Linked DNA regions of Homo sapiens: region 1 is linked to region 2. The links come from fine-mapping of genetic effects on gene expression. Tissue or cell type: whole blood. Region 2 holds a variant in brackets; the other region holds the start of a gene. All regions are shown on one strand. Distances are from middle to middle.

Evidence for each region. PIP is the estimated chance that this variant, and not a neighbour inherited with it, causes the effect.
Region 1: it holds the start of FBXL13, and the variant in region 2 is fine-mapped to the expression of FBXL13 in whole blood (TOPMed, PIP above 0.99).

Annotation. Positions count from the first base shown.
Region 1 is chr7:103,070,333-103,080,926 of GRCh38, forward strand. It overlaps FBXL13 (F-box and leucine rich repeat protein 13), which reads right to left and starts at 4,464. Exons shown (of 21, transcript NM_001394494.2): 1 at 4,364-4,464. The coding sequence starts at 4,438. It overlaps ARMC10 (armadillo repeat containing 10), which reads left to right and starts at 4,808. Exons shown (of 7, transcript NM_031905.5): 1 at 4,808-5,079; 2 at 5,445-5,549. The coding sequence starts at 4,941. RefSeq lists a silencer at 4,395-5,234 and an enhancer at 5,505-5,554.
Region 2 is chr7:102,973,172-102,984,319 of GRCh38, forward strand. The region is part of intron 7 of FBXL13 (F-box and leucine rich repeat protein 13); the gene reads right to left. NFE4 (nuclear factor, erythroid 4) reads left to right here and starts at 259. Exons shown (of 3, transcript NR_166512.1): 1 at 259-600. RefSeq lists enhancers at 1-979, 437-950 and silencers at 630-800, 3,371-3,532. The variant G/A (reference allele first, on the strand shown) is at 5,350.

The DNA.
Region 1 (10,594 bases), 97 kb after region 2:
GCGATTCTCATGCCTCAGCCTCCCAAATAGCTGGAATTACAGGCGTGCACCACACCTGGCAAATTTTTGTATTTTTAGTAGAGACAGGGTTTCAGCTGGTCTCGAACTCCTGGCCTCAAGTGATCCACCCACCTCGGCCTCCCAAAGTGCTAGAATTACAGGCATAAGCAACAAACAATAATTTTAAAATAACAACCATCAACATGTGTGTTGATCCATTTTGCACGGCTATAAAGAAATACCTGAGGCCAGGTAATTTATAAAGAAAAGAGTTGTATGCGGCTCAGGGTTCTGCAGGGTGTACAAGAAGCATGGTGCCAGCATCTGCTCGGCTTCTGGCGAAGGCCTCAGGAAGCTTTTACTCACTGCAGAAGGCAAAGGGAGCCAGCATGTAACATGGGAAGAGAAGGAGTAAGAGAAACAGCTAGAGGGAGGCTCTTCTAAACAACCAGCTCTTGGGTGAACTAATAGAGGGAGAACTCACTAATTATCACAGGGGAGGGCACAAAGCCATTCTTGAGGGATCTGCCCACATGACTCAAATACCTCCCACTGGGCCCCACCTCCAACACTGGGGATCAAATTTTAACAGATTTGGAGAGAACAAATAAAGAAAACAGAAAAAGGCAAACTGAATGAAAAGATGCATAATTCTAATAATCAGAATTTATTTAAACATCAAATTGTCATTCTAGAACTGAAAAACATGTCTAAAATTAAGATTTCATTTGATGTATTTAAGAGTAGACTGGACACAGCATAAAACAAAATTAGTAAACTTGAAAACCATCAATGAAAAAGATCCAAACTTGAGCTCAAAAAGAAGAAAATGGGGAAAAAGCAGAAGAGATCAAAAGAGGCATGTAGAACAAGGTAAAGAAAAAGAAAAAAAAAGCTAACATATGTACGATTGGAGTTCCAAAAGGAAAAGAGAGAACTGAATAGAAGTACTATTTGAAAAGAACCAAGAATTTTCTAAAACGGATGAAAAATATCTATCAACAGATTCAGTAAGCCCAGGGGACCAAGCAGGATTGTTTAAAATGTTTTTTAATTTTTTATTTTTTTAGAGATAGGGTCTTGCTCCATCACCCAGGCTGGAGTTCAGTGGTGCAATCATAGTTCACTGCAGCCTCAAATTCCTGGGCTCAAGTGATCCTCTCCTCTCAGCCTCATGAGTAGCAGGGACTACAGGTGTGAGCCACTAAGACAAGTTAGCTTTTTTTTTTTTTTTTTTTTAATTTTTGTACACACAGGGTCTCACTATGTTACCGAGGCTGGTCTTGAACTCCTGGCAAGCAATCCACCTGCCTTGGGCTCTCACAGTGCTGGGATTACAGGCATGAACCACCAAGCCAGGCCTGATTTTTAAAAAAATCAGTCTCTATTCAAGAGATTTGCAGGAAAATGATATTGTAGGTAGAAAATCAGGTTTTATTTAGGACAGGTAGATGAAATTCAGAAGAGGTTAAATATACAGGGAAAACTTTAATGAAAGGTTATTTATGTATTCCAAGGCTTGCAGAAGATGGGTTTTAGAAAAGTATAAAACCTGCCAGACATGGTGGGTCATGCTGTGGTGGGTCATGCCTGTAATCTCAGCACTTTGGGAGGCTGAGGCGGGTGGATCACCTGAGGTTAGGAGTTCGAGACCGGCCTGACCAACATGGTGAAACCCTGTCTCGACTAAAAATACAAAAATTAGCTGAGCATGGTGGCAGGTGCCTGTAGTCCCAGCTATTTGGGAGGCTGAGGCAGGAGAATCGCTTGAACCCAGGAGGCGGATGTTGCAGTGAGCTGAGATGGCACCACTGCACTCTAGACTGGGCGACAGAGCTAGACTCTGTCTCAAAAAAAAAAAAAGTATAAAACCCATCTGGGAAATTGAGTCAGATAAATAAATGTACAGACAGGATATGAGGCAGAATGGAATTCATCTTGATATTCTCTTAGAAGAAATGGGTAATGAGTTTAAGGTGGGTGTGTGGGGCCCAGAGGATTGCTCCTTTGCACTTCCTGCTAGTGTGCTAGCAGAGGTGAGTGAAGGACTCCTCAGGAGAACATGATCTTAGACAATGGAGAATGCATATAAGGGCCTCCTCTATGGGTGCAGAACAATGCAGTAAGCTGGTAAGGAAGGAATGCTTTCACCCAGAGGGGGAACTGGGGACTGCCTCATTGCAGCTTTGTGATGTTATAGTAACTGGCGGCCTAGATGAGAAGAGGCCATCCCTTCCTTGATGTACCCTGACTCTCAACTCAAGTCCATTTCTGCCACCTGCTCCACCGCCATATCACAGACTGAGCCATCACTCAGAATGGCTGCACCCTGAATTGTAAATATAAACGTTCCACTTTCTGACCCCCACCTCCTGTGTTTCCAGCTCCCTCACTTAATTACTCCCTCTACTTCTCTTCACTCACCTCTTAGAGGAGTCTTCACTTTCTGTCCATGTATCAGTATGATATCCTTTTCTCATTTCCCACTGAGTCCTTAGAGTCCTTGGCCCATCACTTCAGATACTCAGGAGCTTAGCTCCCTAACCTACTGCCTTTCCATTCTATTAATATATGCCTGGCAAATTCCTATCCCAGACGAAGTCAACTTGGTTATCTCTGTACCTACATCTGATTTACTGACTGCTACTTGAGAAAATCACACAACCGGGAAGATGGGTACCATTCTCCCTACATATTTTCAAGCACAATTGTATAGAGGTACAACACAAAACTCACTGTAATAAATTAAAACAATACAGCTATGGACAGAGTAAAAAGTTAGAATTCTCCATCTTTTCCCCCAAAACCATTCCACAAGACATCTGTTATTAACAGTTTGGCATAGGTTCTATGCATGCACTATTGTCTTAAAGCTAGATATATACACATATATGTACATAAACACATATACAACATATATGAAATCAAATGGACAGCTAGAGCAGAATGGACAGTTGCTAAGCAACTTGCACTTTTTCTTTTTTACTTAATAATATGTGTTGGGAGCCAGCCATGTGGTGTATGCCTGTAGTCCTAGCTACTTGGGAGGATGAGGTGGGAGGATCAATTGAGCCCAGGAGTTTGAGGCTGCAGTGAGCTAGGATGGAGCCACTACACCCTAGCCTGGGTGGCAGACCAACACCCCGTGTCTCAATAATAATGATGATAATAATAATATGTCTTGGAGGACATTTCTTCTTAGTAGGTACAGATATACTTTATTCTACATAATGCCTCATTCGCTTAGTCACTCTAGGTCATTTACTATTTTTACTATGAAACAAAGTTATAATGAATATCCTTGTACATCCTCCTGAACACATGTGCAAGTATTTCTCTAAAGTAGATCCCTAGAAGTAGAAATGCTTGGTTAAAGGGTACATGTATTTAACATCTTAATAAATATTTCTCAATTACCATCCAAAAAAGAGACGGGTGGGGGGTCTCTACCAAATTGCCCTCCCAACCGCCTAGGAGCGTTACTACCCTCAGGTAGGACCTCCTCTTTCTTTCCCTAGACATCTCTCTCCCTCATTCTCCACATAACGTATCTTTGCTCGAACCTCCTACTGCACCAACATCCCCATCCCCACTCAAACACGCACATTCTTGGTAAATATCTCACCAACTATTTGTAGAGAAAAAAAGAGGTCAACAAAGGCAAATGTTCTCAGCTTCCTACCCCCAAACCTACAAAACCTAATGTCTATCCCCTTCCTGTCTTCCTTCCCTACTCTTATAACGGCAGTAGGAGGGCAGTCCTTCCTGTTGTCTAAAGGCAATCCTGGTTGAGAGGGTCCTTACCTTCACAAAGGGCTGACTACACTGACCAAAGGTCTCAGCTTCCACTCTTCCCTCCGCTAACCTCCATCTATTTTCTGCCCTCACGGCTCCATGGAAACCTCAGGCTCACCTTGGGCAGAATCCAGCTCCTTATCTTAGGTGACTAGTGCCTACTCCCTACTTCTGACAACATTCTTCATAATGCCAGTCTGCTGATTTTCCTCCTCAGGCTCTCTGGCACTTCTTTCTCACTCCTCCACTCCTCAGGTACTTCTTGTCCAAACCTTAAAATCTGAGTTTGGGGTTTCCGATCTGGGCCTTGTGCTCATTCCCCCTGGGAGATGTCACCCATTCCCCACGTGCAGCCACCATCACCCTCTGTTTTCTCTCTAATCAGCGTCTTCAGCCCTGATCGCCTACAAGTCCGAATTTGACTTCACTTTCTCGCATTCTGCCCCGCCTTCCCTCCACTCCTCCCCAATCCCGAAACCTAGTCCCTCCTCCGGGAAGTCTTTCCTGACTCCTCCCCCTTCTAACTCCCCACCGACGGTCTGTGTCCGCTGCCACGCGTGTCCAGTACCTCGCAGACCTGAGGAATGTAGTTCTCCTTGAAGTAGTTCTTCAGCCTCGGGTTGGCATTGCGTAGCGAGGCCATGGCCCAAGGCCTGACGGAGAAGCTGCGATAGTACCCTCCCCGCGCTGGGACTAGGGGCCGGGCGCGTGCGGGCGTTGTCCCGGCAACCAGGGGGCGGGGCTGGGCGTGGCACCGCCCCGCGCTCCGCTGCCAGGGGCGGGAGGGAGGAATGGTTGCTTCACGCCCCGGGGGAAGAGACGGGAAGCTCGGCTCTGGGTTGCGGGCCCCGGCGTCTCCGCGTGGGGCGCACCGTCCGACCCCCCCCTCCCGGTGTGCAGCGCCCCGCACCGCCCCGCCTCGCCTGGGAGAAGCCGCCGGGACGCGCCGGGCTGGAGTGGGCGGTTATAGGCTTTGAGCTAGGCCGTTTCCGGGAGGCGGAGCTCAGACCCCATTTCCTTTCTCCACATCCAGGTCAGGTGGCGTTTGCTGTGGCGGCTAGGCCCGCGTGCGCTGGAGACCTCCGCGCTGGCCCCCGCGAGCCTCCTGCCCTGGCCCGGCGCTGCGGCTCTGCCGCGGCGGCAGCATGGGTGGCCCCCGGGGCGCGGGCTGGGTGGCGGCGGGCCTGCTGCTCGGCGCGGGCGCCTGCTACTGCATTTACAGGCTGACCCGGGGTCGGCGGCGGGGCGACCGCGAGCTCGGGATACGCTCTTCGAAGTCCGCAGGTGGGACCCCGGGGTTTCCGGCAGGTGGGCGGGGACTGGGCAGGGGGGCTCCCCAGGCCGGGGTGGTGGCTTGCGTGTGCTCGGGGTAAAATGAGGAGCCGAGCTAGAGGGAGAGGCAGTACTTGTGTGAGTGCAGGGTGCTGCGCCGCCCCCGCCGCCCCTTTGCTGACTATACTGGTATGAAAACTTGCCCTGGCTTTCCTGCCTGAGCTCCGCGTCACAGCGGAGGATTAGATTTCTTAAAAACCTGTTGATGGCCTCTCATTTTAAAGCTTGCTCCGGGCCTTTGTGTAACTAAAGGGATTCTCCCGATTGTGGAAGGGCTGTTGAGGGGCCCAGAGCCATAGGTCAATCTCTGCTTGCAGGTGCCCTGGAAGAAGGGACGTCAGAGGGTCAGTTGTGCGGGCGCTCGGCCCGGCCTCAGACGGGAGGTACCTGGGAGTCACAGTGGTCCAAGACCTCGCAGCCTGGTGTGTGTTTTGGAAATGGGAACAGTTGTCTGCGCGAGACACACCCTCCCAGCGGACAAATGCATGATTCGGTTTCTGTCCAAAAGTTGATCGGTACATTAAAACCCTCCAAAGGCATGTTTCACATCATGGAAGCTGTTAGGGAAATAATTTAAAATATCATATCTGCCATCCAAGAAACTCCTGTCCACAATTGTAGAAGAGAGCTAAACAGCTTCATTGTTGAATAAGCACAAACTAAATTGCCTCACACATCACGGGCAATTTGCTAATGGGATAGCAGGAAGAATTCTAATTCCTTTAAATGTAGCTGGACAGATAGAACCGATTTCATATTACATACGTGTTCTCAAGATAAAAAATAATTTGTCCTTAGGTAAGAGGACTTGACAGTACCATTTGCTACATGTAGTTTATCCTGAATTTACTGGTAATTGGGGTGGTTGTTATCTAATTGCCTTTATCCAGAGGAAAAATAAAAATATCTTTATGATGTGGAACCAGGTGCCCAGGCTAAAAACTCACAGAGTTGGGGAGATTGGGGATCTATCTTCCTGGAAGAGTAGGTTTCAAAGAGTACGCTTTCGAACAGTAGGCTCCAAAGCTTTTAAGAAAGTCTTTCTTGGGCTGTAAAACTGGCCAAATGCTTATTTCACTTTTAAAAAGATTTACAGGCTGGGTGTGGTGGCTCACACCTGTAATCCCAGCACTCTGGGAGGCCAAGGCAGGCGGATCATGTGGTCAGGAGTTCAAGACCAGCTTGACCAACATGGGGAAGCCCCATCTCTACTAAAAATACAAAAATTAGCCGGGCTTGGCGGTGGGTGCCTGTAATCCCAGCTACTCAGGAGGCTGAGGCAGGAGAATCACTTGAACCCAGGAGGCAGAGGTTGCAGTGTGCCAAGATTGCACCATTGCACTCCAGCTTGTGCGACAGAGCAAGATTCTGTCTCAAAAAACAAAAAACAAACAAAAAGATTTACATTTGTATCAAAGAAGCAGAAAAAGGAGTTTTGTTTTGTTTTCAGACAGGGACTCCCTCTGTCACCCAGGCTCGGTGCAGTGGCGCAATCACAGCTGCAGCGGCGCAATCACAGCTGCAGCCTCCACTTCCCTGGGCTCCTCCCACCTCACCCCACTAAGTAACTAGGACTACAGGTGCACACCGACACCTGGCTAATTTTTCCAATTTTTTAGGAGATGAGTTTTCACCATGTTGCCCAGGCTGATTTGAACTTGGCTTAAGCAGTGCTCCTGCCTCAGCATCCCGAAGTGCTGGAATTACAGGATTGAGCCTCCTCACCTGGCCAATAAAGGATTTTTAATTACAAGTTTGCACGAGGGAATGCTTTAAGAAAAAGGGAGTGGAAGGGGAAGGTCTCTCTCACTTTTGCCACTAGGTATAATTCAGCTTTTTTTTTTTAAAGATTTGTATGTACCCTTACTGTATTAGTCCATTTTCTGTTGCTTATAATAGAATATCTGAAACTGGGTAATTTATTAGGAAAGAAATTTATTTCTTAGAGTTATGGAAGCTGAGAAGTCCAAGATTGAGGGGCCGTAGCTGGTAAGGGCTTTCTTGTTGTGGCATAGGGCATCCCAAGGCCAGAGGGGCAAGTGTGTTAACATGCTGACTCAGGTCTCTTGTTCTTATAAAGCCACCAGTCCTGCTCATTAATCCATGAATGGATTAATTCATTCATGAGGACAGACCCCTCATGATCCAGTCACCTCTTAAAGGCCTTACCTCTCAATACTGCCACATTGGGAATTAAGTTTCGACATGAGTTTCGCAGGAGACATTCAAATCATAGCATTTACAAAGCCTAATTTGTTGTCTTTGCCCATGTCAGAGATATTTTTGTATAAGTACATTGGGAAGGTGTCCTGGACTCAGATATCTTCTCAGTTATACTGACTCAATCTGATGAATGTGGACAGTCTTTTAAACTTAACAGTTCCCATAATCATCATTATCTTAGGTAAGGCAGCTTAAAAAATAATTTGCTCACAGTCCCTTCTTCCTGAAGCTACTCCTTTATCATTGAAGAAGACTTGAGAAATGCTCATTTCATCATCAATATGGTTTGGCTTTGTGTCCCCACCCAAATCTCATCTTTTTCTTTTTTTTTGAGACGGAGTCGCACTCTGTCTCCCAGGCTGGAGTGCAGTGGCATGATCTCAGCTCACTGCAACCGCCACCTCATGGGTTCAAGCGATTCTCTTGCCTCGGCCTCCGGAGTAGCTGAGATGACAGGTACACACCATGTGCCTGGCGAATTTTTTTTGTATTTTTAGTAGAGACAGGGTTTCACCATGTTGGCCAGGTGATGTGCCTGCCTTAGCCTCCCAAAGTGCTGGAATTACAGGCATCAGCCACTGTGCCCGGCCCAAATGTTATCTTGAATTGTAATCCCATAATCCCTACATCGTGGGAGGGACCCGGTGGAAGGTAATTGAATCACGGGGGCAGTTCCCCTCCCCTCCATGCTCTTCTCGTGATAGTTCTCAGGAGATCTGATGGTTTTATTAGGGGCTTCCCCCTTTGCTCTGCACTCCTTCTCTTTCCTGCTGCCTATGAAGAAGGAAGTGTTTGCTTCCCCTTCCACCATGATTGTAAGTTTCCTGAGGCCTCCCCAGCCATGTGGAACTGTGAATCAATTAAACCTCTTTCCTTTATAAATTACCCAGTCTCGGGCAGTTCTTCATAGCAGCATGAGAATGGACTAATAAAGTCATCATCACGCTTAGATTTCAGAAGATGATCTTTTGTTTTTTGTTTGTTTTGTTTTTGTTTTTTTTTGAGACGGAGTCTTGCTCTGTTGCCCAGGCTGGAGTGCAGTGGCGATCTTTTCTTTGTTTTAAACTCACACCTCTAATCCCTTTGGGAGGCTGAGGTGGAAGAATCGCTTGAGCCCAGAGTTCAAAACCAGGCTGGGCAACATAGTGAAACCCCATCTCTACAAAAAATAGAAAAATTAGCCAGGCATGGTAGTGTGCACTTGTAGTCCCAGCTACTCAGGAGGCTGTTTTGGGAGAAACCCTTGAGCCCAGGAGGTCAAGGCTGCAGTAAGCTGTGATTGTGCCGCTGCTCTCCAGCCTGGACAAAAGAGCAAGACTCTGTCTTAAAAAATAAAAAATAAAATAATTTTTGTACTAACGTGGTTTGAGAGCATTGAAAAAGACGGAAACAGTCCCAATTCATCCAACAATCTAACGTCATAACCTGACAAGGATGGTAAGAAAAACTATAAATCTGTCTCAACTATGAATAAAGATATAAAAATCTTAAAATATTAGCAAGTCAAATCTATCAGGGGATTAAAGTAATAATATACCAAGGCCAAATGGACATGGAAGGAGGAGTCATACTAGAAAAAGGAAAAGCCACATGATGACCTCATAATAAAAAGGCATTAAAATATTTCTTTCCATAGCTGAAGCTCGGGGAAAAAAAAAGAAAAAAAATTTTATCATTTCTGATAAAAACTTGCAGCAAGTAAGGAATAAATAGAAGGAAATGTTCTTAAGTTGATCAAGTACATCCATCAAAACCCAAAAGCAAATATCGTATTTAATAGACACACTAGTTAGTAGCATCCTTATCAAACTCAAGAACAAGAGAAGGGTGTCTGCTATCACAGCTACTATTCAACGTTCTTCTGGAGTCATAGCTTGATAAGAAAACAACATGCATAAATATTGGAGGCAGAATTATAATCGTAGGTGGCATAATGATTTACTTGGAAAAATCCAAGAGAATTAACTAACTACTAGAAGCAATGAGTTTAATAAAATATCTTGAGTACAAGTAAATATACCCAAATCAATAACTTCTTGTATACATGCAGTAACAATTCAAAATTTTAATTGAAAATATTTTATTTGACAGAATGAGACCCTGTTTCAAAAAATATATATCATTCATGATAGCTATAAAAACTTTAAAAATTAGGAATTCACTTTAAAAACTAGGAGTTCCTGTAGTGAGAAGATAATTTTACTGAAGGGCCTAAGACTACATAAACAGGCATATTGTGTTCCCAGTTGGAAAGATTCTGAACCATGACAGTTATCTTGAAATTTGTCTTGCTACGTTATAATGTGGTAGTCACTTTTCATTCCCTTTGAGAATTCTAATTTCTCCTTGATTTACTGGAGGAGACCACAAACCACCGAGCCTAAGATTCTTTCACAGTCTTGTTGGCACAGAGCTAGATGGAAAGTAGAACACATGTTTGACTCCTCACCTGTGTAATAGCAGTCCAAAAACTCACCAGTGGAAGAGCTGAGTATTTGATGATCGCCCTCCTGTAAAATTTTTAGAGTTTTAAGTTTTACATTTCTTTACTAAAAAGTTATACATGGTTTTTGTTTTGTTTTGTTGTTTTGAGATGGAGTGTTGCTCTGTCGCCCAGGCTGGAGTGCTGTGGTGCGATCTCAGCTCACTGCAACCTCTGCCTCCCAGGTTCAAGTGATGCTTCTACCTCGGCCACCCGAGTAGCTGGGACTACAGGCATGTGCCACCACTGCTGGCTAATTTTTGTACTTTTAGTAGAGACGGGGTTTCACCATCTTGGCCAGGCTGGTCTCGAACTCCTGACCTCAGCTTATCTGCCTGCCTTGGCCTCCCAAAGTGGTGGGATTACAGGTGTGAGCCACCGTGCTGGGCCGATAAATGGTTTTTATTAGAAATTCAAAGAGAATATATAGAATTAAAGTATAGGCTCATTATTTTATTTTTTATTTATTCATTTATTTTTTGAGATGGAGTCTTGCTCTGTTGCCCAGGCTGGAGTGCAGTGGTGGGATCTCGGCTCACTGCAACCTCTGCCGCCCAGGTTCAAGCAATTCTTCTACCTCAGCCTCCGGAGTAGCTGAGATTACAGGCATGTGCCACCATGCCTGGCTAATTTTTGTATTTTTAGTAGAGACAGGGTTTCAGCATCTTGGCCAAGCTGGTCTTGCACTCCTAACCTCGTGATCCGCCCATCTCAGCCTCCCAGAGTGCTGGGATTACAGGTGTGAGCCACCGCATTCAGCTA
Region 2 (11,148 bases):
GTTATCAGCCTTCCTTTCATTTGTGTTCATTTTGTTTTTGAAAGATTCTCCCCAACGCCCGAAAGCTTGAAGGAATGAGTAACTCCTCTCTTCTCAGGCCCAGTCCCAAGGCACAAGGCCACTTGTACCAGCAGCGTGAGTCAGCAAGATAGCAGAAGCAGGAAGAGAGCCGGCCAGAAGACACCTACCCTGGCCGGAAGACACGTACCCCTGAAGATCGAGAAACAGGCCATCTGGGTACCACATAGCAGTTACATCAGACTGGGACAATTCCTGTTTACGGAAGACTATAAAACCCTGCCCCCTACTCATTTGGTGCTGACGCCATTTTAGGCCTTAGCCTGCCTGCACCCAGGCGCTCATTAAAACAGCAGGTTGCTCCACACTGCCTCGTGTTGTCTGTTGGCACACTCTCAAGAGTTTGAACGGATACAAGAATCTTTCATCTGGTGCCGAAACCCGGGAGGGGCTCCGGTCTTCGTCCCCCGTGGACCTACCCCTCCGCCCCAGAAAGCAGGCCACAGCAGCCGGACAAAGGAAGCTCCTCAGCCTCCAGTTGCTTCTCTGTGCATGCACATCAGTCACTGATCTCACCTACTGGTAAGTTTCCCGGGAGCCCGGTTAACAAGGAAAAATCCATACAGCCTCTCTTGGTTTCTCCAGTCTGAAAATCCAACATTGGTCCAAGAAGGCTCCGACGTGTGCCAGGTACTTGCTGATCATCTGGTCTTAGGGGGACGCCTCTAAGCCATTTGATCCCGTTCCGGGAACGAAAAAGGCAGCGGTGACGATCGCTCCTTTCATCGTCTCCCTCCACCATCCAGGATGGTCTCCTTTTTCCCTGTTTTCCCGAGCCTACCCTCAGTTATGGGAAACTCCCCATCCTCAATTCCAAAAAACAGCCCTCTAGGCTGCCTCATAAAAAACCTGTAAACCTGGCCAGGTGCGGTGGCTCATGCCTGTAATCCTAGCACTTTGCGAGGGTGAGGTGGGCGGATCACCAGGTCAGGAGGTCAAGACTATCCTGGCTAACACGGTGAAACCCTGGCTCTACTAAAAATACAAAAAATTAGCCGGGCATGGTGGCAGGCACCTGTAGTCCCAGCTACTCAGGAGGCTGAAGCAGGAGAATGGTGTGAACCCGGGAGGCAGAGCTTGCAGTGAGCCAAGATCACACCACTGCACTCCAGCCTGGGCGACAGAGTGAGAGTCCGTAAAACAAACAAACAAACAAAAACCTGCAAACCTTAGGCCTCAGGCAAGATATCCATCCTCCTTGTCTTTTTTTGCAATTCAGACTGGCCACAATACGAATTGAATAATGGGTCCTAATGGCCCGCAAATAGAACATTCGACTTTACAATTTTAACTGATTTAAGCAATTATTGCTGACGACTGGAGAAATGGGGAAAAACTCCTTATGTCCAGCCCTGTTTGCACTCAGATCACAACCCGACCTCTGTAATTCTTGCTCACCTGTTCAAATCCTCCTCTATTCTCGCCACCCAGATCACCTTTCTCCTCCCAACTCGACATATTTTCCTCGTTAGATCCAGCAGACTGCTGTCCATTCCTCTCAGCCCCTGCCTCTCCCTCTCAGCCGTCTTCTTTAACCCCCTAAGCCTCCTCTTTATCTTCTCAGCTGCGATCTTCTCAGCCTTCATCTTCCCAGTCGCCATCTTCCCAGCCCCCATCTTCCCAAGCAGCAGTATCCACTTCTTTTCCTACACTGTCCTCTCCTCAGGACAATTCTAGCATTGTCTGTACTCATTACTCATTCTCCTTCCTCACTGCCCTCTCCTGAAGCCTGTAAACCCATCCCACCACCTTACGCCCCTATCTATCCTCCACTGCCTATCAACTTAACCCTCCTTCCCCCTTCAAACCCTCAGCAGGAACCACTTTCAGGTTCTTCCTTCTCTCCCACCCATACTCGCTCAGGCACCATCTTTGGCCCATGCCCCACCCTTAGTTCAGCCCCTGTGCTAGAGAGCCCCCTTCAGAAAGTAGCAGGAACTGGAGGCATTGTTAAAGTTTATGTTCCCCTCTCCCTCAGTGATCTCTCTCAAATTAACAAAAGACTCAGTTCATTTCCAGAAGACCCTACCTCTTACATTAGAGAGTTTCAGTACCTCACCCAGTCTTATGAACTAACTTGGCATGACCTCTACATTATCCTCTCTTCCACCCTCACCCCAGAAGACTGGGGCTGTATCTGGACCCTAACTCAGGTACATGCTGATACAATTCATCACCAAGCTCCTGCTCAGCCTACTGGTGCAAAGGCAGTCCCCAACCAGGACCCCCACTGGGATTATCAAGATGGGGCCTCTGGACGCTGCTGTCGAGACCACATGATTGTGTGCCTCCTTGCAGGACTCAAAAAGGCTGCCCATAAAGTGGTAAACTATGAAAAACTTTCAGAAATCACCCAAGGTCCTAACGAAAACCCAGCCCTTTTTATCTCTCGTTTAACTGAAGCCATGAGAAAATATACCAACCTAGACCTAGCCAGTCCAGAAGGAACCGATATTTTAAACCTTCAGTTCATCTCCCAATCCACCCCCAATATTCAGCGCCAGCTTCAAAAACTTGACAACAGCCCTCAAACCCCACAACGAGACTTTCTTAATTTAGCCTTCAAAGTCTTTAACAATCGTGATGAGGAAAGTAAAAGGCAAAAACAGGCAGGGTTTCAAATGCTTGCCTCCTCCATCAGGGGCCCTGCAGGCCATGGGGCCACAGCTCCACACAGAAGCCTCCTAGCAATCCACCTCCACCTGGTGCCTGCTTCAAGTGCGGCAATGAAGGCCACTGGCCCACACAATGCCCAAACCCAGGTAAACCCACGAGGCCATGCCCCCTCTGCGGAGGACCCCACTGGAAGTTGGACTGTGAGCGGCCCCTGCAAGGACCACCCCCATCCCTTCCTGAGCCAATCAAACCCTCCTACTCGGATCTCGTCAGCCTTGCCGCTGAAGACTGATAGTGCCTTGGAACAGACACCCCAGCAACTACCATCGCTTCATCTGAGCCAAGGGTAACCCTGATGGTGGCAGGTAGGCCAGTATGTTTTTAAAATTAATACCAGGGCAACCTATTCTGCTTTCCCTAATTTTTCAGGACCCACCCAGTCCTCCCAAGTCTCTATTGTGGAAATTGATGAACAAGCCTCCAAACCCTGAGCCCCCCGCTCCACTTTTCTGCTCCCTGCACACCTTTTCCTTCACTCACTCTTTCTTAGTCCTGCCCTCATGCCCAACTCCGCTCCAAGGCATCCTTTCAAAACTCCACACTGCTCTCCACTTCCACGTTCCCCATAATACCCAACGCATCAACCCAAACCCCTCTGGGGCTTCTTTCTTCTATTCCAACCTCCCACCTTAAAACATGCAACCTTTCCTTATCCCCCATCTGTAGTTAGCCCCCCTGTTTGGGGTAATTCCACACCCTCAGTCGCAAAACACCACACTCCCGTCCGTCCACATTACCCTTAAAGAGCCCACCCAGTTCCTATCACAGAAGCAGTATCCCATCCCCCAAGCAGCTCTCACAGGCCTAACGCCTATCATTTCTCACCTCCTCGCCAGTCACCTACTCCGCCCAACATACTCCCCTTTTAACACACCAATTCTACCTGTTAAAAAACCAGATGGAACTTATCGCTTAGTCCAGGACCTCAGGCTTATTAACCAAGCTGTACTCCCAGTATGTCCAGTAGCTCCTAACCCATATACTTTACTTTCTGCAGTTCCCTCCAATACCACCCATTTTTCTGTTCTAGACCTAAAGGATGCTTTTTTCACAATTCCATTACACCCTGATTCCCAAAACCTCTTTGCCTTTACATGGGAAAACCCCAACACCCATGGAGTCCCTGTGTATGATCACTTAAACAGAGAAAAACGATCCTTAAAGGTAGGAGGAAGCCAAAGACGGCAAGAGGACGAGTGGCCCCTGCAATGGATCATCGAATATTATGGTCCTGCCACTTGGGCGGAGGATGGTTCATGGGGTTATCGCACTCCCATATATATGCTAAATAGAATAATTAAGGCTACAGGCTGTTCTAGAGATAATCACTAACCAAACCGCCTCCGTCCTGGAAATGCTCGCACAACGACAAAAACAAATGTGCGTGGCAATTTATCAAAACAGGCTAGCACTAGACTACTTATTAGCAGAAGAGGGTGGAGTCTGTGGTAACTTTAATGTCTCCAATTGTTGTCTTAACATAGACAATAATGGAAAAGCAGTTCTAGAAATCGCTTCAAACATCAGAAAAGTAGCCCATGTACCAGTCCAAACCTGGAAAGGATGGGACCTGGCAAACCTTCTAGGAGGATGTTTCTCTAATTTAGAAGGATTTAAAATGCTGATAAGGACAGTAATCTTCATCATTGGGCTCCTCCTTTTTCTCCCGTGTTATCCCACTGATAATAAAAGCCATTAAAACTCTTGTTGAAGCTACAGTTAACTATGTTTATTGTGGCACTATTCACAATAGCAAAGACTTGGAACCAACCCAAATGTCCAACAATGATAGACTGGATTAAGAAAATGTGGCACATATGCACCATGGAATACTATGCAGCCATAAAAAATGATGAGTTCATGTCCTTTGTAGGGACATGGATGAAGCTGGAAACCATCATTCTCAGCAAACTATCGCAAGGACAAAAACCAAACACTGCATATTCTCACTCATAGGTGGGAATTGAACAATGAGAACACATGGACACAGGAAGGGGAACATCACACACCGGGGCCTGTTGTGGGGTGGGGGGAGAGGGGACGGATAGCATTAGGAGATATACCTAATGTTAAATGACGAATTAATGGGTGCGGCACACCAACATGGCACATGTGGCACATGTATACATATGTAACTAACCTGCACGTTGTGCACATGTACCCTAAAACTTAAAGTATAATAATAAAAGAAAAAGAAACTACAATTAACTGCCAGACAATCCAGACAATGCTCCTGCTACAATGACAAGATGGATACTAACCTGTCTCTCAAGAATACCAAAAAAATTAAGGTTTTCTTTTTCCAAGGTGCCCACGCCACCCCCTATGTCATGCCTAAAGTAGTTATTGAGAAAGTCACCCTTTTTCCCTTTTTTCTATAACCAAATAGAAAGGAATGAAGGATTCTCCCCAGGGCCTGAAAGCTTGAAGGAATGAATAACTCCTCCCTTCTCAGGCCCAGTCCCAAGGCGCAAGGCCACTTGTGCCAGCAGTGTGAGTCAGCAAGATAGCAGAAGCAGGAAGAGAGCCGGCCAGAAGACACCTACTCTGACTGGGAGACACGTACCCCTGAAGATTGAGAAAGAGGCCATCCAG[G/A]TACCACATAGCAGTTACATCAGACTGGGACATTTCCTGTTTACAGGAGACTATAAAACCCCTGCCCCCTACTCATTTGGTGCTGACGCCATTTTAGGCCTCAGCCTGCCTGCACCCAGGTACTCATTAAAACAGCGTGTTGCTCCACACTGCCTCGTGTTGTCTGTTGGCACACTCTCGGGGTTTGAACTGATACAAGAATCCTTCAGTTTTGTATTGTATTTTAGTTGGATTTTTAAAGTTTATCTCACAAAGAGGGTGACTACATAATAATTAAAGGTAGCAATTCACTAGAGATTATAGCAATCCTAACTATGCAAGCATCTAATAACAAAGCCACAAAGTGACAAGGAGAATCTGACAAATCCACAATCATAATGAAAGATAATATCAAAACGATCTCAATACTTGATAGATCAATGCAAGGAAATAAGTCTTCGATTTCTCAGTGCTCCTGTAAAAAGCACTAGCCTCCAGAGGCATGGAAATCTACATGATATAAAGATAGGTAATTTTACCCTTCACTTACTTTACAAACATTTTACTTTCCACCTACTATTGAAATTAGATCTGTAGTTATTCGTAGACAAATAGTTATTTGTCTGACAAACAGTTAATTGCTCTGATCCAAAAGAATAATAAAACTTCTCTTACCTCCCCAAGAAAGTCAAATGGTCACAGCCTGGATTAGTCAAGATTCCAAGGTGTCAGGAAGATCCCTAATTTACATTTCAAGAAGAAATGGGTCCCAGGACCTTGGAGACATGTCTAGGTCATAAAAGCTGGAGATGCTAGGGCTTACCTGGCCCTTGGAGAGATGCATTCTAAGAAGTCTTGCCTCTCTCTTTTACTTATAAATACCTTTGTGATTTTATTAGATCCACCCAGATAATCCAGGATAATCTCCCCATTTCAAAATTCTTGATTTAATCAAATCTGAGAAGACTCTTTTGTCACGTAAGGTAACATACTCACAGGTTCTGAGGACTGGGATATGGACATCTTTGTAGGGGGTGGGGTAATGTTCTACCTACCATACTATATGAGGGAATAATAAACACTAAATTTAAGACAGCAAATACCTCTGAGGGAGAAAAGAGAATGCAGTCATGGAGGCTTTAATTGTATGTTATGTTTTATTTCTTAAACTGGGTGGTGAGTGTACAGTTGCTCATTAAATTTCTTTGCATGCCTGAAATATTTTATTGAATAATCTCACTTTTTAATAAAAATACTTAGGAATAAATTTAACTAATTTAACTAAAAAGGTGAAAGACTAGCATACTGAAAATTACAAAACATTGCTGTAAAAAAATGTAAAAAGGCCTAAACAAATGGAAAGACATCCCATGTTCATGGATTGGAAGACATAACAATGATAACAGAAATTGAATCAGAATTTAAAATCTGCCTCTGAATAAACACCAAACAAACATGGGCCAAGAGTTTTATAAGACCATTCTATCAAATATCCAAAGAACAGACCCTACAAACAATAAAAATACTAAGATGTCAATACTATCTAAAGTGATCTATAGATTCAATGTAATCCCTATAAAAATTTCAAAGGCTTTTTTTGCAAAAATGAAAAATCTGACCCTCAAATTTGCAGTAAGTGCAAGGAGTCACAAGTAGCCAAAACAATTTTGAAAAAGAACAAAGTTGGAGGACTCACATTTCCTGATTTGAAAACTTACTACAAAGATATAGTAATCAAAATATCAAGGTACAGGATAGACATATAGACCAATGGAATAGAGCTGAGAGACCAGAAATAAATCCATACATCATGGCCAAGTGATTTTCAACAAGTGTGGCAAAACATTCAATGGGGGGAAAAAAGTCTTTTAAATAAATGGGACTGGGACAACTGGGTATCCAAATGTAAAAGAATGAGTTTGGACCCTCTACCTTACACCATATAGCAAAATGAAGTCAAAATGAGATAAATGACCTAAATATAAGAGCTAAAACCAGCCGGGTGCGGTGGCTTACGCCTGTAATCCCAGCACTTTGCGAGGCTGAGGCAGGCGAATCACGAGGTCAGGAGATTGAGACCATCTTGGCTAACATGGTGAAACCCCAGGTCTACTAAAAATACAAAGAATTAGCCGGGTGTGGTGGTGGGCACCTGCAGTCCCAGCTACTCAGGAGGCTGAGTCAGGAGAATGGTGTGAACCTGGGAGCCAGAGCTTGCAGTGAGCTGAGATCGTGCCACTGCACTCCAGCCTGGGCGACAGAGCGAGACTCCATCTCAAAAAAAAAAAGAGCTAAAACCATAAACTCTTATCAAAAAAATAGGGATAAATAAATCTTCATGACCCTGCGTTTAACAAAGAATATGACACCAAAAGCATGAGAAACAAAGGAAAAAATAAATAAGAGTTCATCAAAATGAAAACCTTGTGTGTCAAAGAACATGATAAAGAAAGTAAAGACTTCACTTTTTGCCTGTATGTACTGGGAGGGCAAGAAAAATGCCAGCAATTAAATGAGTTGTTGAAATGGCCAACAAGCCTTGGAAAGGTATTATGTTGGATCAGGTGGCCTGAAAGCTGTACTTGTAGTTTTGTACCTACTGTACTTGTAGGATATTTTTGAAGACAGAGGAACTATTGTAATTAGTCCTATGTTCAGAGAGGTAAAAGCAACTAGAAAAGAAAAGTGGCAGCACAGAAAAGTAGTAGAAATATAGAATCAATTTTCTGAGCATACAGAGAAAGAACAAATGACTTGTTTAAAAGGGTCCATTTTAATGTTCTTCCTTTTTATACTGGTAAATACTTTCTAGTCCAAGAAATCTGGCTCCGAATTTCCTAAAATTTTTACTTATTTGATCTATTCCCCTGTATGTACCCATCTCCCATTGCCTGCACACCTTTCCCCCCCTTACCCACCTCTTTTTCTGACATTGCACACAGGCCAGTCTCTCATCCCACAGACTTGTTCTCAAAGAAGACATACTTTCTCTAGAAGATAGTATCCTAAAGAGCATTCTCCTATTGTCTTAGTCCATTTGAGCTGCTAAAACTGAGTACTATAGACTGAGTAACTTATAAACAAGAGGATTTTATTTCTCACAGTGCTAGTGGCTGGAGGCCTAAGATAAAGTCTCCAGCAGATTCAGTGTCTGGTGAGAGCCCACTTCCTGGTTTATACACAGTCATTTCACTGTGTCCACACATGGCAGTAGGACCAAGGAGAATCTGGGATCCCTTTTATAAGGGCACTAATCCCATTCATGAGGGCTTTGCCCTCATGGCTTAATCATTTCCAAAGACGTCACCTGCAAATACCATCATATTGGGGATTAGGTTCAACGTCTGAGTTTTGCGGGACATAAACATTCAGTCTATAGCAACTATGTTTCCCAAATTCCATTAAAAGCCAAAATATTATTTTGACTATACAGGTCCAAATGGGTCTGTAATCCCAGCACTCTGTGAGGCTGAGGGGGGCAGATCACGAGGTCAATGCTGGGTTACAGCCCAGCATTCAAACACTGGATCCCGGGCACATATAGATACACTCTTCTTTTTCCTCCACTGTGGAGTAGCAGTCCCACTTCTCCTTGATAGTTAGGGTCAATTACTCCACCCAACACAGTAATTCCCTTCTTCGCTTGTTGATTCAGGGGCATGAGGAGTTCATAGTGGTTGGGTGGCAGTCTTAACTTTTAGTTCGATAGAACTATCATTGTGCGTCCTGGTGTAAACATTCCTCCTTTTTGAACCAAAACCTCTAGGTTAGCAGCATAAGCTTATGGAAACAGAAAGCAAAATTTTTGCTAGTAGGTTACTAGGGGTAATAGTGAGTGTGCCACTCCCATTTCCAACCCTTGATTCCTGGACCCAAGAATCTTGACTATGGAAGGAAGAGTATCATATATTGGACTGTGATTCAGAGTATATACAGATTCCTAGAGAACTTTGCCCCAGCCTTGCAAGGTACTCTCCCATCGTTGGCACTGGAATTGAGTCTTCCAAAGGCCACTTCACCATTCTGTCAAACCAGCTACTTCAGAGTAGTGGTAAAAACTACAGTGTAACTGTGTTCACTGTAAAAACCAGTGAATTCCAGGAGCATGGACCCATTGAGGCATTTCTTTTGCTGTGAAGTTTTATAAATGGAAGTTCCTCTGCACAAGCTCTCTTGCCTGCCACCATGTAAGATGTCCCTTTGCTATTCTTTCATTTGCAACCATGATTGTGAGGCCTCCCCAGCCATGTGTAACTGTGAGTCCATTAAACTTCTTTCCTTTATAAATTACCCACCCAGTCTTGGGTATGTCTTTATTAGCAGCATGAGAACAGACTAATACAAGCTTTAGAGCCCTTTCTAACTCCTTGTGCCAAAATATAAATGCAGAATCTCTATTTAGAGAACTCATGTGAATAAACTCAGCGTCTTCCAACTTTATCTTCTTTCTACCATTATCCCATACCCTCATTATCCATTTCCACATATTTTTCAGATTTCAGTCTGTATAAGTTAGAAAACTCAAGTAGTTTTTTTTGGAGTGTAGTGCACTTTCTCATGGGTCACATTTTGTCCCACACCTTCAAAGGCCTGCTGGGACTTGAGTCTAATTATGAGACTAGAAGCAAAGAGGGGTGGTAGGGGTGAGTTCTAAGAAAAATCAATATTGTCTTGCTTGGCAACTGCCTCAGTGGAGGCCATTACAATTTCCTCATGCAGTGTAGCATTAACCACCTTCTGAGGTGGAGAAGCCACTAGCACTGGGAGTGCGGAGGCCACTTCCACTAGCAGTAGGATTGCCTCTTCCACTAGCAAAGAAGACTCACCAGAAGTTAGAGGCTCAATGTCCTCAGTTTCATCAAGGTCTTCCCACAAGTCCCCATTCCAACTTATAGAAACCCATTCTGGTTTTCTTTTTTCCCCTTTTTTTTTTTTTTTTGAGTGGGGTCTCGTTCTGTCACCCAGGCTGGAGTGCAGTGGTGTGATATCAGCTCACAGAAAACCCCACTTCCCAGGTTCAAGCAATTCTCTTGCCTCAGCCTCTGGAGTAGCTGGTTTTATAAGTGCCTACCACAATGCCCAGTTAATTTTTGTATTTTTAGTAGAGACGGGGTTTCACCATGTCGGCCGGGGCTGGTCTTAAACTCCTGACCTCAAGTGATCTGCCTGCTTTGGCCTCCCAAAGTGCTAGGATTACAGGCATGAGCCACCGCACCCAGCAAGAAACCCATTCTTTCCCAGTCAACGCCTTCACTTTAACAGAGTATAAAAGTGGGTCACCGGATGAGATAAGATAACTGTAAAACTGGGTCACAGGATGAGATTCTGCATTTGATTTTCAGGAATCTCAGCCCTGTGGCTAAAGGAGATAAGACTCTCCCTCAGGGCACATGTGGAAGCTTTCAGTCATTTATGCAGTACTTGAGCTGGAAATTTGAATTCCTGAGCTCCTTCTTTTCTTTCAATACTTTGTTCGTGACATTAGGAGCAACAAGCCAACCTAATTATATTCATGTGATTTCCAGAAATGTTTGAGAGTATCATATGCACAATGATCAGCTCCTTGCTTCTTATAAGTGGTTGATTGGGAACATCCAATGGAGATATTTGGCATATCTCTATTGCCAGATAACACCGTGAAACATCAGTGCTCTTTTTAGCACTGAAAAAAGAGTCATTTGCATCTTTAAATCTGATCACATTAAAAAGCCAATTCTAGGAACCTAAAAACCAATTCTAAAAACTCATCCTTAAAATTCTGTTCCTATAGAACCACCCTTGGTACCAAAATCTGTATTAGTCTGGGTTCTCCAGAGAAAA